2 linked regions of the Homo sapiens genome follow. The protein of the gene in region 1 interacts with the protein of each later gene in a biochemical or structural test. Each region holds a gene or a part of one and is shown in the gene's direction. Other genes may lie near its edges.

What was found.
Region 2: the proteins of WAC (region 1) and RNF20 form a complex in vitro, tested with the Homo sapiens proteins (2 studies listed by BioGRID).

Annotation. Positions count from the first base shown.
Region 1 is NC_000010.11:28,528,480-28,536,138, forward strand, and holds the start of WAC (WW domain-containing adapter protein with coiled-coil), read left to right. Parts: upstream 1-4,638; 5' UTR 4,639-4,964; coding exon of another isoform or gene 4,965-5,100; coding exon 5,101-5,141; intron 5,142-5,518; coding exon 5,519-5,555; coding exon of another isoform or gene 5,556-5,703; intron 5,704-5,754; exon of another isoform or gene 5,755-5,867; intron 5,868-7,064; coding exon of another isoform or gene 7,065-7,082; coding exon 7,083-7,278; intron 7,279-7,659.
Region 2 is NC_000009.12:101,557,819-101,563,844, forward strand, and holds the end of RNF20 (E3 ubiquitin-protein ligase BRE1A), read left to right. Parts: intron 1-2,982; coding exon 2,983-3,108; intron 3,109-3,271; coding exon 3,272-3,412; intron 3,413-4,091; coding exon 4,092-4,193; intron 4,194-4,427; coding exon 4,428-4,604; 3' UTR 4,605-5,526; downstream 5,527-6,026. UniProt on the Homo sapiens protein: Component of the RNF20/40 E3 ubiquitin-protein ligase complex that mediates monoubiquitination of 'Lys-120' of histone H2B (H2BK120ub1).

The DNA of each region.
Region 1 (7,659 bases):
CTTTCACAACTAGAGGCTTGAGGATTTCACTTTTTGGTTCTTCCTTCAGTTCTTCCTTCAATAGAATCACATTAAAATCTTGGTCAACCTATATATAACCTATGAGTTGATAGTTTTTCCCCTCTATTGGTTGGTATGTATTCAGTCTACAGGTTGAAATATGGGTCTTTTACTCATTTGCAAACTTGATATTTCTCATTAGATAGCAGTGTAAATAATCTGCTTTAAGATTTGCTATACATGCAAATTCATGTACATTTTTTAATATCTATTACAATATTTTGCCTGTATTAGGAATAATCTAGCTTTATCCTCCATCTTATTTGTGAGAACAGGACTGGATTTGTAATTCTTTTATTCTTTCACAAAGCAAACAGAAATAGAACCCAAGCTTTTTCCTCTTGAGAATTCAATTTTGCTATTTTTATCGTATACGTTTCTGCAGGCAAATATCCTTTAATTCAACAAATATTTATGGTATGCCACATGAAGCATTCATTCTAGTGGGAAACAACCAATAAACAAAATATATGGCAAATGGTTTAGGAAAAATAGATCAGGGTTAAGGGAGCAACATGGTGGTAGGGCGCCATCATGTAGAGTTCTCAATTAAACAAGACAAGACTTAAGCAGAGACCTGAAGAAGTGAGGGTGTGAGCCAAGCAAGTACTAAGGGGGAAGAGGATTCCAGGCAAAGGGACAGCAGTGCAAAGGTCCTGAGGCAGAGGCATGCTTGGTATACTGGAGAAAACAGGGAGGGAGGGTAGAATGGTGGGAAAAGAATGAGAAAGCAGGGCTGAGCGCGGTGGCTCACGCCTGTAATCCCAGCACTTTGGGAGGCTGAGGTGGGTGGATCACGAGGTCAAGAGATGGAGACCATCCTGGCCAACATGGTGAAACCCCGTCTCTACTAAAAATACAAAAATTAGCTGGGTGTGGTGGCACGTGCCTGTAGTCCCAGCTACTCAGGAGGCTGAGGCAGGAGCATTGCTTGAACCTGGGAGGCAGAGGTTGCAGTGAGCCAAGATCATCCCACTGCACTCCAGCCTGGCGACAGTGAGAATCAGTCTCAAACAAAAACAAAAACAAAAACAAAAAAAGAGCAAATAAAGAAGTCAGTGGATAAGAAGCCAGAAGTAACAGGCAGTTTACATATGGCCTAGTGGATCATGGCTATAACTTTGGCTTTTATTCAAGATTGGAATATTATCTGACTTTTTAAGGGATTACTGCACTGTATGAGACAGCAAACAATGTGGAAGCAGGCATAGAAGGGCAAGATCAGTTAGAAAGCCTTTGCCACGGTCCAGGTTTAATGATGGTGGCTTGGACCAGAGTGAACTTGCTGGAGGTGGGTTACAGAGATCAGATTGTGGATACATTTTGAAGGTAATGCTGGCAAAATTTGTTGATGGAGTCAATGTGAGATATAAAACAATCAAAGATGACTCCAAAGTTTTTAGCCTCCACTAGAAGAATGGAGTTGTCATTTCAAGAGATTGGGAAGATCTCAGCAGGACTTGTTTGGGGTGGGGGGAGATTAAGAGTTTCGTTTTGAATACATTAAGTTTGTGATGCCTGTTAGAAACTCAAGCAGTGCTATACAGTAGGCAGTTAAGTGTGAGTCTTGTGTTCAGAGGAAAGGTGTGGACTGGAAATTCAAATGTGGGTTTCATCCAGCCAGAGATCTGAATGAGATTGCCTAGGGAGAGAGAACAGAGGAGTGCGGGTTGTAAGATTTGAATCTCACGCCACTCCAGCATTTAGAGGCTGGAAAAGAAGGAGAAACCAGTAAGGAGTCTAAGGAACAGCCATTTGGGAAGGAAGAGAAGCAAGAAAGAAAATGAAATCCTGGTAGGCAAGATAAGGAACTTTAAGGAGAAGAAAGTTATCAGCTGTGTCAAATGCTGCTGACAAGTGGAGATGAAGACTGAGAAATAAAAATCAGACTTGAAAACATGGATGCTACAGATGATCTTGAACAGGTCCAGAAGTGTGGGAATGAAGTCTGTGGGTTCGAGAGAGAAGTAAAGATAAAGTATTTCTGTAAAGGAGAGCAGATCAGACTTTTGATAATGTGGTTTTATTTAGAGACAGTGTCTCACTGTCACCCAGACTGGAGTGCAGTGGCAAGATCTTGGCTCACCACAACCTCCGCCTCCCAGGCCCAAGTGATTCTCCTGCCTCAGTCTCCCGAATAACTGGGATTACAGGCGCACACCACCACACCTGGCTAACTTTTATATTTTTAGTACAGATGGGGTTTCAAAATGTTGGCCAGGCTAGTCTCAAACTCCAGACCTCAAAATGATCCACCTGACTTGGCCTCCCAAGGTGCTGGGATTACAGGCATGACCCACTGCATCCGGCCTATTTACTTTTTGAGACAGGGTCTCCCTCTGTCGTCCAGGCTGGAGTGCACTGGTGTGATCATGACTCACTGCAGTCTCGAACTCCTGGACTAAAGTGATTGTTCAGCTTCAGCCTCTGGGAGTAGCTAGGAATACAGGCATGCATCACCATGCCTGGCTACTTTTGAGCAAATGGTTTATACCAATTTCAGCAGACATCTAGTTATCAAACAAATTAGTAGTAATTTTGCTGCCAGTTTTCAAAGTTTCTATGAAATGTTATTTGTTGTACTCCTCTGATGTTTGTCTTCAATGGATTCACTACAAATATGTCAGAAATTACATGTTAAGATGCTACCGAATTTTTTTGTTTTCATAATTTCAGTCACTGTCAATTTTTTTTTTTAGTTACTGGTAGTTTAAGAGAGCATTAAATAGGCTTTTTATTGGTCTGCACATCTCCACAAACAGCAATAAGCTCTACATCTGGCAGATGGATGTGACAAATAAGATTATGTAATTAAAATTTTTTTTCCAACCAGTTGTGATTTCAGAGCCTTTCTCCCTACATCATTCCATCTCTCCATTCTATTAGGTCTAGCAATAACGTAACTTCTTGGATACCAAGTAAATCAGTTACTTTTTATTTTTTGGAGGGGGTTGTTTCTTCTGACTTGTTTACTATTTGCCTCTTCTGTGTTAATCACCTAATTATGTTTACCACAATTCTTTTCATTAAACTATGTTGCCTTACAAATAGTGCAAAAAAAAAAAAAAAAGTCAACCAATCACCCGAATACCACCACTCTCAACTAACGGTTGTTTGGTATACTTCACGTTTCTTCTCTCAATGTACCTGCAGCAGTACATAAAATCAAATTTGTAGCAATTTCACTTAACACACCTGAGAACTTTCACATGAATTTTCTTTCACCAATGGACTTCAGCGAGGAAGAAACAGAGGAGGGAAAAGTGAGAGATAAAGAGAGGGTGGGCAGGGCACCGCTGGGTATGGAAAACGTTAGAAAGGGATGGAAAACGTTAGAAAGGGGTGAAAAGCCGAGCGCAGTGGCTCACGCCTGTAATCCCAGCACTTTGGGAGGCCGAGGCGGGAGGATCGCTTCAGGCCAGGGGTTCGAGACCAGCCTGGGTAACACAGCGAGACCCTATCTCCGGAAAAACTTTTTTTAAAAAATTAGCCGGGTGTGGTGGTGCATGCCCGTGGTGCCAGCTACTTAGAGGGCTGAGGTGGGATGACCCGTAAGCCCCGGAGGTCGAGGCTGCAGTGAGCCGTGATCGCGTCACTGCACTCAGACTGGACGACAGCGCGAGACCTGTCTCAAAAAAAAATAACAAGGGGTAGGGTGGGGCAGTGAGATGGTTCAGCGTTGTTCCCAAGGAACTCATCTCCCTAAATTTCCAGTCTCAAGCGCCGCTTTCATTCCCTGCCCCGAGCGGCGCTCCCCGCTCCGTGCACGCATCTCCGCTGAGGGCCGCCCTGACGCACGGCCTTCTGCCTTGAACACAGAACCCCTCAGCCCTTCCTATTAGCCGTTTCTGGCCGGGACTGCACGCGCTCCTTCCTGCCTCGGGGCGCAGGGTGAGACTTACGTCTAAAGGGCGCCCGGCGAGCTCGCAGCAGCCCCTGCCCCGCGGAGGGCCGGTGGCGCGCGGCGTCCGGTGAGGGGCAGCGGCCCGGGCTCGGTTCCGGCTTCCAGCAGCGGCCCGAAGGCGCCGGAGCACGCTCCCCGCTCCCCAGAACGCAGCTTCCGCGGCTGCAGCCCAGGCAGCTCTTCGGGAAGCGTCCGCCCGTGGTCTCGCCAGGGGGTTTCCGACCTCCCCGCCCGACAGCGCAGGGGCGGGGGCCGCGGCCGGAGAGCTCGCCCGAGAGCACCCCCTCCCGCTGCGCCTCTGGGCGCACGCGCAGCCGCTGCAGCCTCCCTTATTTAGTCCGCGATGGCTTCCCTCGCGCCCCACCGTCCTCTTCCGGAAGGCGGCTCCCTCCCTGCGCAGCCCGGAGCCCCTGAGATCAGCCTCGAGCAGGCGCCCGAGCGAGACTATCCCTAAACGGGAACGGCGGTGGCCGACTCGCGAGTGAGGAAAAGAAGGAAAGGGCAGACTGGTCGCGAAGAGAAGATCCAGGCCTCAGAGGAGGAGAAAGGCCGGAGCCAGCCGAGGTTTGCCGAGGGCGGTGTTCCGGACCCGCGCGGTGCGGGGAGGAAGGCCGAGGGTGGGAGAGGAGGGGCCCGGCGGAAACTGCCGAGGTTTCCCGAAGGCGGCAGCGTCCGAGTTGCCCGGATGTAGTTGGTGGAGCGGCAGCGGCGGCACCAGCGGCGGCGGCGGCGGCGGGAGGAGGAGGAGGAGAAGAAGGACCAGGCGGCGGCAGCAGCGGCGGCGGCGGGGGGAGGAGGGGAGGAGGCGGCGGAGCAGGAGGAGGAGAAGGCGGAGGAGGCAGTCGCTCTCCGCGGGGCTGAGCCGGACGCGTCGTCTTGCCCCCCTCCCCCCGGTTCGCGGTGCCGCCGTGTAGTTGGCGCCGCTGCCCCGGCTGAGAGTGAGCGTGGTGTCGACGGAGGGAGATGGCCCGGGAGCGCCGGCGCCAGTAACTGGGAGCTGATGAGAGTCGCCGAGGGCGCGCCGGGCCCAGGTGCCGGGGCTGCCCGCCGCCCGCCGCCGCCGCCGCCTGCGCGCCCGCCCGCCTTTCGCGGCCGCTCTCCCCCCTCCCCGACACACACTCACAGGCCGGGCATTGATGGTAATGTATGCGAGGAAACAGCAGAGACTCAGTGATGGGTAAATTGTCTTTTCGTTTCGGGCCGGGCGGCGGCGGGGGGCGGCGGCGGGGGGGCTGTTCCTCCTTATCTGGAGCTGGCCGGGCCGCCATTTTTGTTGTTAACCCTGATCCGGATCGGGTTGGGGAGGAGGAGCGGCCGCGCGGGCGGGCGGGCGGGAACGCAGTGTGGCGGGGAGCGGGGGCCCGGCTTCGCGGCATTTCGCCCTCTCCGGCCCTTCCGGAGGCTCCGGGTTTGTGCCGTGTGCGTGCGGGGCTCGGCGCTGGGGCGCTCGGTAGGTCTCCCGCGGGGAGGGGCGGCGGGGGCCCCGTTTTCTTCCTCCCCGGCCCCCCACCCGCGCCGTGTCTTATGTCGCTGCCTTCTCTTCCTGTTTTTCAGCTGTCACGACCGGAGGGGGGACTCGCAGCCTTACCAGGTACCAGCCGAGGCCGGGGTGGAGGGATTGGAAGGGGCCGGAGGGGGAAGGGAGGGACTGCTACTCGAGCGCAGGCCTCAGAAGTCGATACAGGCCCTTCGGTGCAACACATCTGAAACTAGCACCGCGGATCCCCTTAAAATTCCAGGTTTGGTTCCTTTAGCGCTCTCCAGCAAGGTTTAGTGACTTATTTTGACAGGTGACTGGAGGGAGTTCGCTGATTTAGGAAAAAAGAATCATTTGCAGCCAGAAAGACCTGACTCGATTATTTGATTATTTGCGAGTGAAGGAATCGATGGGATGAGATGATAGGTGACTTACGAGGCTTATTTATTTATTTATTGTGTTGGGGGAACTGAAAAGTTAATGTAAAGGTATTAAAATTAAGTGAAGAACTTGGGTAAATAGCTAAATGACTTACAACTTTCAAGTCGGTTATAAAGTACTACCCTTTCCCCTTTTAATATTTTTGGTATACTTAATTGCCTTACAAGTAAAAGATATGTGTGCTTTTGTTTCTGTAAGAATTGAGGTCTTTGGGTACTTGGATAATCATTCTGATGTAGGTGGTTCTAGGTAGGTGGGTTCCTTTTTGTTACTGCAGTCATTGTGTGTGAAGTTCTAAGGATTATGATGAAAGTGGCCCCAATTTTCAGGAGGGAAACCTCATAATGATTGTTAACCATCAGATGACTGCAGAAAACACTTTCTACATCTTAAAGGACTAGAGAGCAGGTTTCTAACCTGATGGTTGTGTTATACAGCTGAATTTGAAAACACTGTCTTCTGATATGTAAAACATTGGATATGTCAAAAATTAAACTTTACTGAATCTGTCCTCCAAAGCATAGCTGATTACACATTGCAACAGATTAGTACATCATGATTGTCTTAAGATATGTGTTAGAATAAAGCTAAACGATTATTTTGAGCGCATTATGCTTAGTTAGAAATAGTACTCACATTAGTTTATTTTGGTTAGTATTTTTATACCTTAAAATTGTTTCCCACACCTGGGAGAGTAAGGAAGTTAGGTCTGAAATGCTTTATTTGAATCAAAGAATTGGAGAAACTGGTGTGTGGGTTTTTTTTTTTTTTTTTGGTAGGTTTGCAAAAATATGCATGTGCTTATTTATACATGTGTTTGTGTATATCAGCTGTAGAGCAGAAATTGATTATAGTAGTACTGAATTTCTAGTTTTCTTTTGACTATCAAAAAATGATTCTAAATATTCTCAGCCAAATTTTTTTATTTTTTGCAGAATCAGTGTGCAAGGTGGTTTATAAGATAATGGAGTGGGTTTTTTTTGTGTTTAGTGTGATTTGTTATCAGGAGTCTTATTGTAACGCTTAAGCATTAGGTTTTTTGTCTGAGAAACTTTAAAGAGTAAAGCAGAATTGAAAGTGGAAATTTTAATTTTGTAAGTTCATAAAATTTAATGATAATACACCAAAGTTTATGTTTAAATTAGGGAGTTTAAGGTTTCAATTCTTTCTCTCTTTTTTTGGGGGGGTGATGTTTTACAGGCACTTAAGTATTCATCGAAGAGTCACCCCAGTAGCGGTGATCACAGACATGAAAAGATGCGAGACGCCGGAGATCCTTCACCACCAAATAAAATGTTGCGGAGATCTGATAGTCCTGAAAACAAATACAGTGACAGCACAGGTCACAGTAAGGCCAAAAATGTGCATACTCACAGAGTTAGAGAGAGGGATGGTGGTGAGTATCTTTCTTGTTGAAACTTTGACATACAGTTTTAACAATAGCTCTATATAAAAGGCGGCAGTAGTATTTCTAGCTTGAAGAAGTTACTGTTCAGTTATGTCATTAAAATATTTTAATCCTATCATTTTTTTTTTACTCTGAACAAGTTACTGTAGAAACAAGATGCTGATGTGAGCATCTAAAAAGTGGACTCTTAAGGCCAGGCGCGGTGGCTCACGCCTGTAATCTCAGCACTTGGGAGGCCGAGGCGGGCAGATCACCTGAGGTCAGGAGTTCAAGACCAGCCTGGCCAGCAGGTGAAAACCCATCTCTACTAAAAATACAAAAGTTAGTTGGGCATGGTGGTGGTGGCAGGCGCCTGTAGTGCCAGCTCTT
Region 2 (6,026 bases), on another chromosome or scaffold:
AACATGTCTGAAATAAAATCAAGTGACGTGTTTTGTTATCCTTTTTGCGTTAAAGTATATGTTTACTTGTGTTCCTGTGCTGTATATTTTAAAAATTTCTGGAAGGCTGCATGAGAAACTGTTAGAATTGTTACTTCTGGATATTGGGATGAGTTGTGGGTGAGGTTAGGAGGTATGTGTGATTTTACTTTTTTTTTTTTTTTTTTAAATTTCCATAGGTTTTGGGGAACATGTGGTGTTTGGTTACATGAATAAGTTCTTTAGTGGTGATACCAAGATTTTGGTGCACCCATAACCCAAGCAGTGTACATTGTACCCAGTGTGTAGTCTATTGTACCCAGTGTGTAGTCTGTTGTCCCTTGCCTCCCTCCGCCAAGTCACCAAAGTTTATTGTATCATTCTTATGCCTTTGCGTCCTCACAGCTTAGCTCCTACTTATGAGTGAGGACATACAATGTTTGGTTTTCCATTCCTGAGTTACTTCACTTAGAATATTGGTCTCCAATTCCAATTCCATCCGGATTGCTGTGAATGCCATTATTTTGTTCCTTTTTATGGCTGAGTAGTATTCCATGGCGTGACTTTTCCTCTGGGTAGATACCCGGAAGTGGGATTGCGGAATCAAGTGGTAGGTCTACTTTTAGTTCATTAAGGACTCTCCATACTGTTTTCCATAGTGATTGTACTAGTTTACATTCCCACCAACAGTGTAAAAGTGTTCCCTTTTCATCACATCCATGCCAACACCTATTATTTTTTGATTTTTTGATTATGGCCATTCCTGCAAAGTGAGGTGGTGTTGCATTGAGGTTTTGATTTACATTTCCCTGATAATTAATGATGTTGAACATTTTTCTTATGTTCGTTGGCCATTTGTATATATTCTTTTGAGAATTGTATATTCATGTCCTTAGCCCACTTTTTGGTGGGATTGTTTGTTTTGTTCTTGCTGATTTGTTTGAGTTCCTTGTAGATTCTGGATATTAGTCCTTTGTTGGATGTATAGATTTTTTTCTCCCACTCTATGGGTTGTCTGTTTACCCTGATGATTATTTCTTTTGCTGTGCAGAAGCTTTTTCGTTTAATTAAGTTTCATCTATTTATCATTTCTTTTGTTGCATTTGCTTTTGGGTTCTTGGTCATGAAGTCTTTGCCTAAGCCATTGTCTAGAAGGATTTTTCCAATATTGCTTTCTAGAATTTTTATGGTTTCAGGTCTTAGATTTAAGTCTTTGATCCATCTTGAGTTGATTTTTGTATAGGGTGAGAGATGAGGATCTAGTTCCATTCTTCTACATGTGGCTTGCCAATTATCCTACCACCATTTGTTGAATAGGGTGTCCCTTCCCACTTTATGTTTTTGTTTGGTTTGTCAAAGATCAGTTGACTACGTATTTGGCTTTATTTCTGGGTTCTCTATTCTGTTACATTGGTTTACATGCCTATTTTTATACCAGTACCATGCTGTTTTTGTGACTATGGCTTTATAGTATAGGTTGAAGTCAGGTAATGTGATGCCTCCAGATTTGTTCATTTTGCTTAGTCTTGCTTTGGCTATGTATGCTCTTTTTTGGTTCCATATGCGTTTTAGGATTGTTTGTTCTAGTTCCGTGAAGAATGATGTTGGTATTTTGATGGGAATTGCATTTCATTTGTAGATTGCTTTTGGCAGTATGGTCATTTTCACAATATTGATTCTACCCATCCACGAGCATGGGATGTGTTTCCATTTGTTTGTGTCATCTGTGATTTCTTTCAGCAGTGTTTTGTAATTTTTCTTGTCGAGGTCTTTCACGTTCTTGGTTAAGTATATTCCTAAGTATTTTATTTTATTTTTTTTGCAGCTGTTGTCAAAGGGTTTGAGTTCTTGATATGATTCTCAGTTTGGTTGCTGTTGGTGTATAGCAGAGCTCTGATTTGTGTACATTAATTTTGTATAGTGAAGCTTTGCTGAATTCATTTACCAGTTCTAGCACCTTTCTGGATGAGTCTTTAGGGTTTTCTAGGTATATGATAATGTAATCAGCAAACAGTGACAGTTTGACTTCCTCATTACCAATTTGGATGCCTTTTATTTCTTTCTCTTGTCTGATTGCTCTGGCTAGGACTTCCAGTGCCATGTTGAATGGAAGTGGTGAGAGTGGCATCTGTGTCTTGTTCCAGTTCTCAGGGGGAATGCTTTCAACTTTTCCTTGTTCAGTATAATGTTGGCTGTGGGATTGTCATAGATGGCTTTTATTACCTTAAGGTATGTCCCTTCTATGCTGATTTTGCTAGAGTTTTAATCATAAAAGGATGCTGGATTTTGTCAAATGCTTTTTCTGCATCTATTGAGATGATCATGTGATTTTTTAAAAATTCTGTTTATATGGTGTATCAGATTTATTGACTTGTGGATGTCAAACCATCCCTGTATCCCTGGTGTGAGACCCACTTGATCATGGTGGACTATCTTTTTGATATGCTTTTTGAAGGCAGTGTGAGAAACTGTTAGAATGGTTACCTCTACATATTGGGATGAGTTGTGGGTGAGGTTAGGAGGTGGGTGTTTGTGATTTTACTTTTTACACTTTAATATTGTTTGATTCTACTTTGTGCATTAATTTCAAAAAAGACTCTTTTAGAATGTCTAGCCATTCTGAAGGAAATACTCTTGGACTTTTGTTTGAGTTCTAATTTATATGTTATAGTATGAATTGCCAGGTTTTAAGCATTAGCATGCATTCTCTATTTTTGGCAATTTGGAAAAGAATCTTTTCAGTCATTTTTCAGACTCTTACTGAATCTTCCACAATATTTTATATTAAAAGTAAAGCTTTCAGTTATCATAGTCTTGATGTATTTTGAAGGGTTCATGGGCAAAATCAGTAATAGTTTGAGATTTCTAACATACTGTATTTTGTGGGCTTATAGATTAACAGAATAGTTTTTTTTCTTTTTTTAATCTTTTCATTTGTGTTAAAATCTGATTTTCTGTTCAAAGGTTGATGCCCAGCTACAGGTAGTAAGGAAACTGGAAGAGAAGGAGCATCTGTTACAGAGCAACATTGGCACAGGGGAGAAAGAGCTGGGTCTTAGGACCCAAGCCTTAGAGATGAATAAACGCAAGGTATGATTGATTAATCTAATGATGGTTAGTCTCAGTGGAACAAATAAGTATAACACTGTTGAGATTGTAAGTTCGCTTTATTCCTTCAACTTGGGCTAACATTTTGCCTCACTGGCAATAATAGGTGATACAATGGTGTCACTTATTTGTACATCCTACATAGGCAATGGAGGCAGCCCAGCTTGCAGATGACCTCAAAGCACAACTGGAGTTGGCTCAGAAGAAGCTACATGATTTTCAGGATGAGATCGTGGAGAACAGTGTTACCAAAGAAAAGGACATGTTCAATTTCAAACGAGCCCAGGTAAAAGCAGTTGTCTTTTCTTGTCACCTTTTAGGTGTTTTCTGAGGTCGGAAGTGACCCATATCATGAAAGAATCATTAGTCCAATGTATGTCATTTCCTACTAGACTTGAGGAAGTTTGTTGAGGGAAGAGAGTAAGTCTGTTTTCTTCACTGCCATATCCTCAGACTCTTTTATGGTGCCTTGCACCTAGTAGGCACAAAATAAATATTTGTTAAATTAATGAATTAGTAAATTGTTAAAGAAGTAACAGCATAGCAGCAGTAGAGGATTTTCAAGTTCTTGTATAATGTCTCTATTTTTGTCATGCTAGCTGTTTCTCATGATGTCTTTCTGTCTTTATCCGTAAGTCTCTGAATTATTTTAAACCGTTCTACCTTCAGCTTAAAACTAATTACTATAAAACAAAATAGACTGTCCTCTAAACTCTTAGATGTGTTTTCACAGGACTGAATTGGTAATAGATGCAATTCTAATTTGGGGATATAATTATGGTTGCCTCTTCTGAAACAAAAGAAAATATCCTGCCATTTGCAGTTCTCTACATTTCTACAAGATAATTGACCATAAAAGGATAGAAAGTCCCCTCTTTTCACAACAGAAAACTCAAGTCTATTATTTTTCTCAAAAATGATAGATTTGGGTAAGTGTGTCTAATGGGTATGCTATCCTGCCACAGGAGGACATCTCTAGACTTCGCAGGAAGCTGGAGACCACAAAGAAACCAGACAATGTACCCAAGTGTGATGAGATTCTGATGGAAGAGATTAAGGATTACAAGGTTAGAAAAAATGCCTTAGTGATTAGTTTTTTGTCAAAGCTTTAAGTGGCCTAATAGACTGGGAGAATAATTTGCATGATAGTAACCAGAGAATGGTTTATTTTGGAGGTTGGGGGGAAATGATGCTCTTTTTTTAGTGCCTTGTGGGTTTTCTTCTTGGTTGTGTAGTATATGAGAGCCATTTGGATCATAAACTTTCATGGTTGTTCAAACTCTGACATCTTTTCTTTTTAGGCACGCTTGACCTGTCCGTGCTGTAACATGCGTAAAAAGGATGCTGTTCTTACTAAGTGTTTTCATGTCTTCTGCTTTGAGTGTGTGAAGACACGCTATGACACCCGCCAGCGCAAATGTCCCAAGTGTAATGCTGCTTTTGGTGCCAATGATTTTCATCGCATCTACATTGGTTGATCTAAGTCAAGAGAAGAAGAGGAGCTGGCTAGTCAGGAACTTATTCATTAACCACCAAACCTCTACCTCTTCTCTCCTTGACTGTCACCTGTAGGACAGTTTATCAGTCAACTACCTTTCCTCCAGACTTTACTTCCAGGCTCTCCTCTTCAGTAGCTGGATGACTTTAGCAGAAAGGACTGGTAAATACAAGCCTTGGGTTTCAGAATGAATTAGAAACAAATAACTCTTACTGTCTTCCCTCCCAGCTTTGTTTATTTTGTGCTTTTAGACTTTTCAGTGTTTTCTTTTTCCAGCCCACTGTATAAACTTGGATTGTCCATTCCTCCTGAAGAAATCAAGTTGGTATTTTTGATGTGGAAAAGGGAACAAAAGTGGAAACATGGCTACTTTTGGGGAGTGATATTTTAAAAAATAAGTTGTCTATGGGCACAAAGTTTTCTTCATTTGTGTAGCAAACTTCTTGTGAATGTGGATTACAAAATGGTATAATTGTGCTACTCTCCCCTGGGTGGTTTGCAGCCCTAATGAAATTATGTCTAGGATGATTCAGTCTATTTCCCATTTACTAGCAGAGTAACTTGTTAAGATCAGCTGGCTTTCTTGTTAAAGTTATTTAAGTTTTGAATGCTCTACTACTTCAAGTCTTTAAATTTCTTGAGACTAGAATAATTTTAAATAATATGACCCTTTGTCTTCTAATGAAATAAAGATTGAAGAGGTTGAGTCAGGACTGAGCTGGTGAAGAAATCTTGTGGGTATTCTGGAAATTTGATACGGAGAGAACTTGGTGAGCTATGAATTACTCTCAGTCTCCTTTTTACAGGGTTGTTGTGATCCCTCTTTTCCAGAAAATTCTGTGGAATGTTTCTGTAGGACTTTGTTCTCCACAAGCTTGAATTAAAGCAGGATTCAGTTTGCATTTGTGTTTATGGTTTTTCTTTGAAACTTTTGTCTTTATTATTACAAGTTGATTTTATATCTGCTGTTATAGAATTAAATTTTCTTGCATGGAAATAATCAGCTTAGGTTAAGAGGTTGGCCTTGTTTAGAGTATTTAGATCTTTGCTTAATTGAAGCACTTTTCTCCCAATTCTTTTATTGAGTCTATTCTATGGAGAAATTATACCTAAAAGATTAATTTATTTGACTACTCAGTTATCTTTCATAGTTCATTAGGTGGGGTAAGAGACTATAATTTGTTTTTTGGGGGAGCATATTGCTGCCTCTAGCTTTAGGGTGAGAGTTCTTGCATTATGTGGTGGGTTTTTTTTTTTTTTTTTTGAGATGGAGTTTTGCTCTTGTCGCCCAGGCTGGAGTGCAGTGGCACAATCTTGGCTTACTGCCACCTCCGCCTCCTGGGTCCAAGCAATTCTCCTGCCTCAGCCTCCCGAATAGCTGGGATTACAGGTGCTCACCACC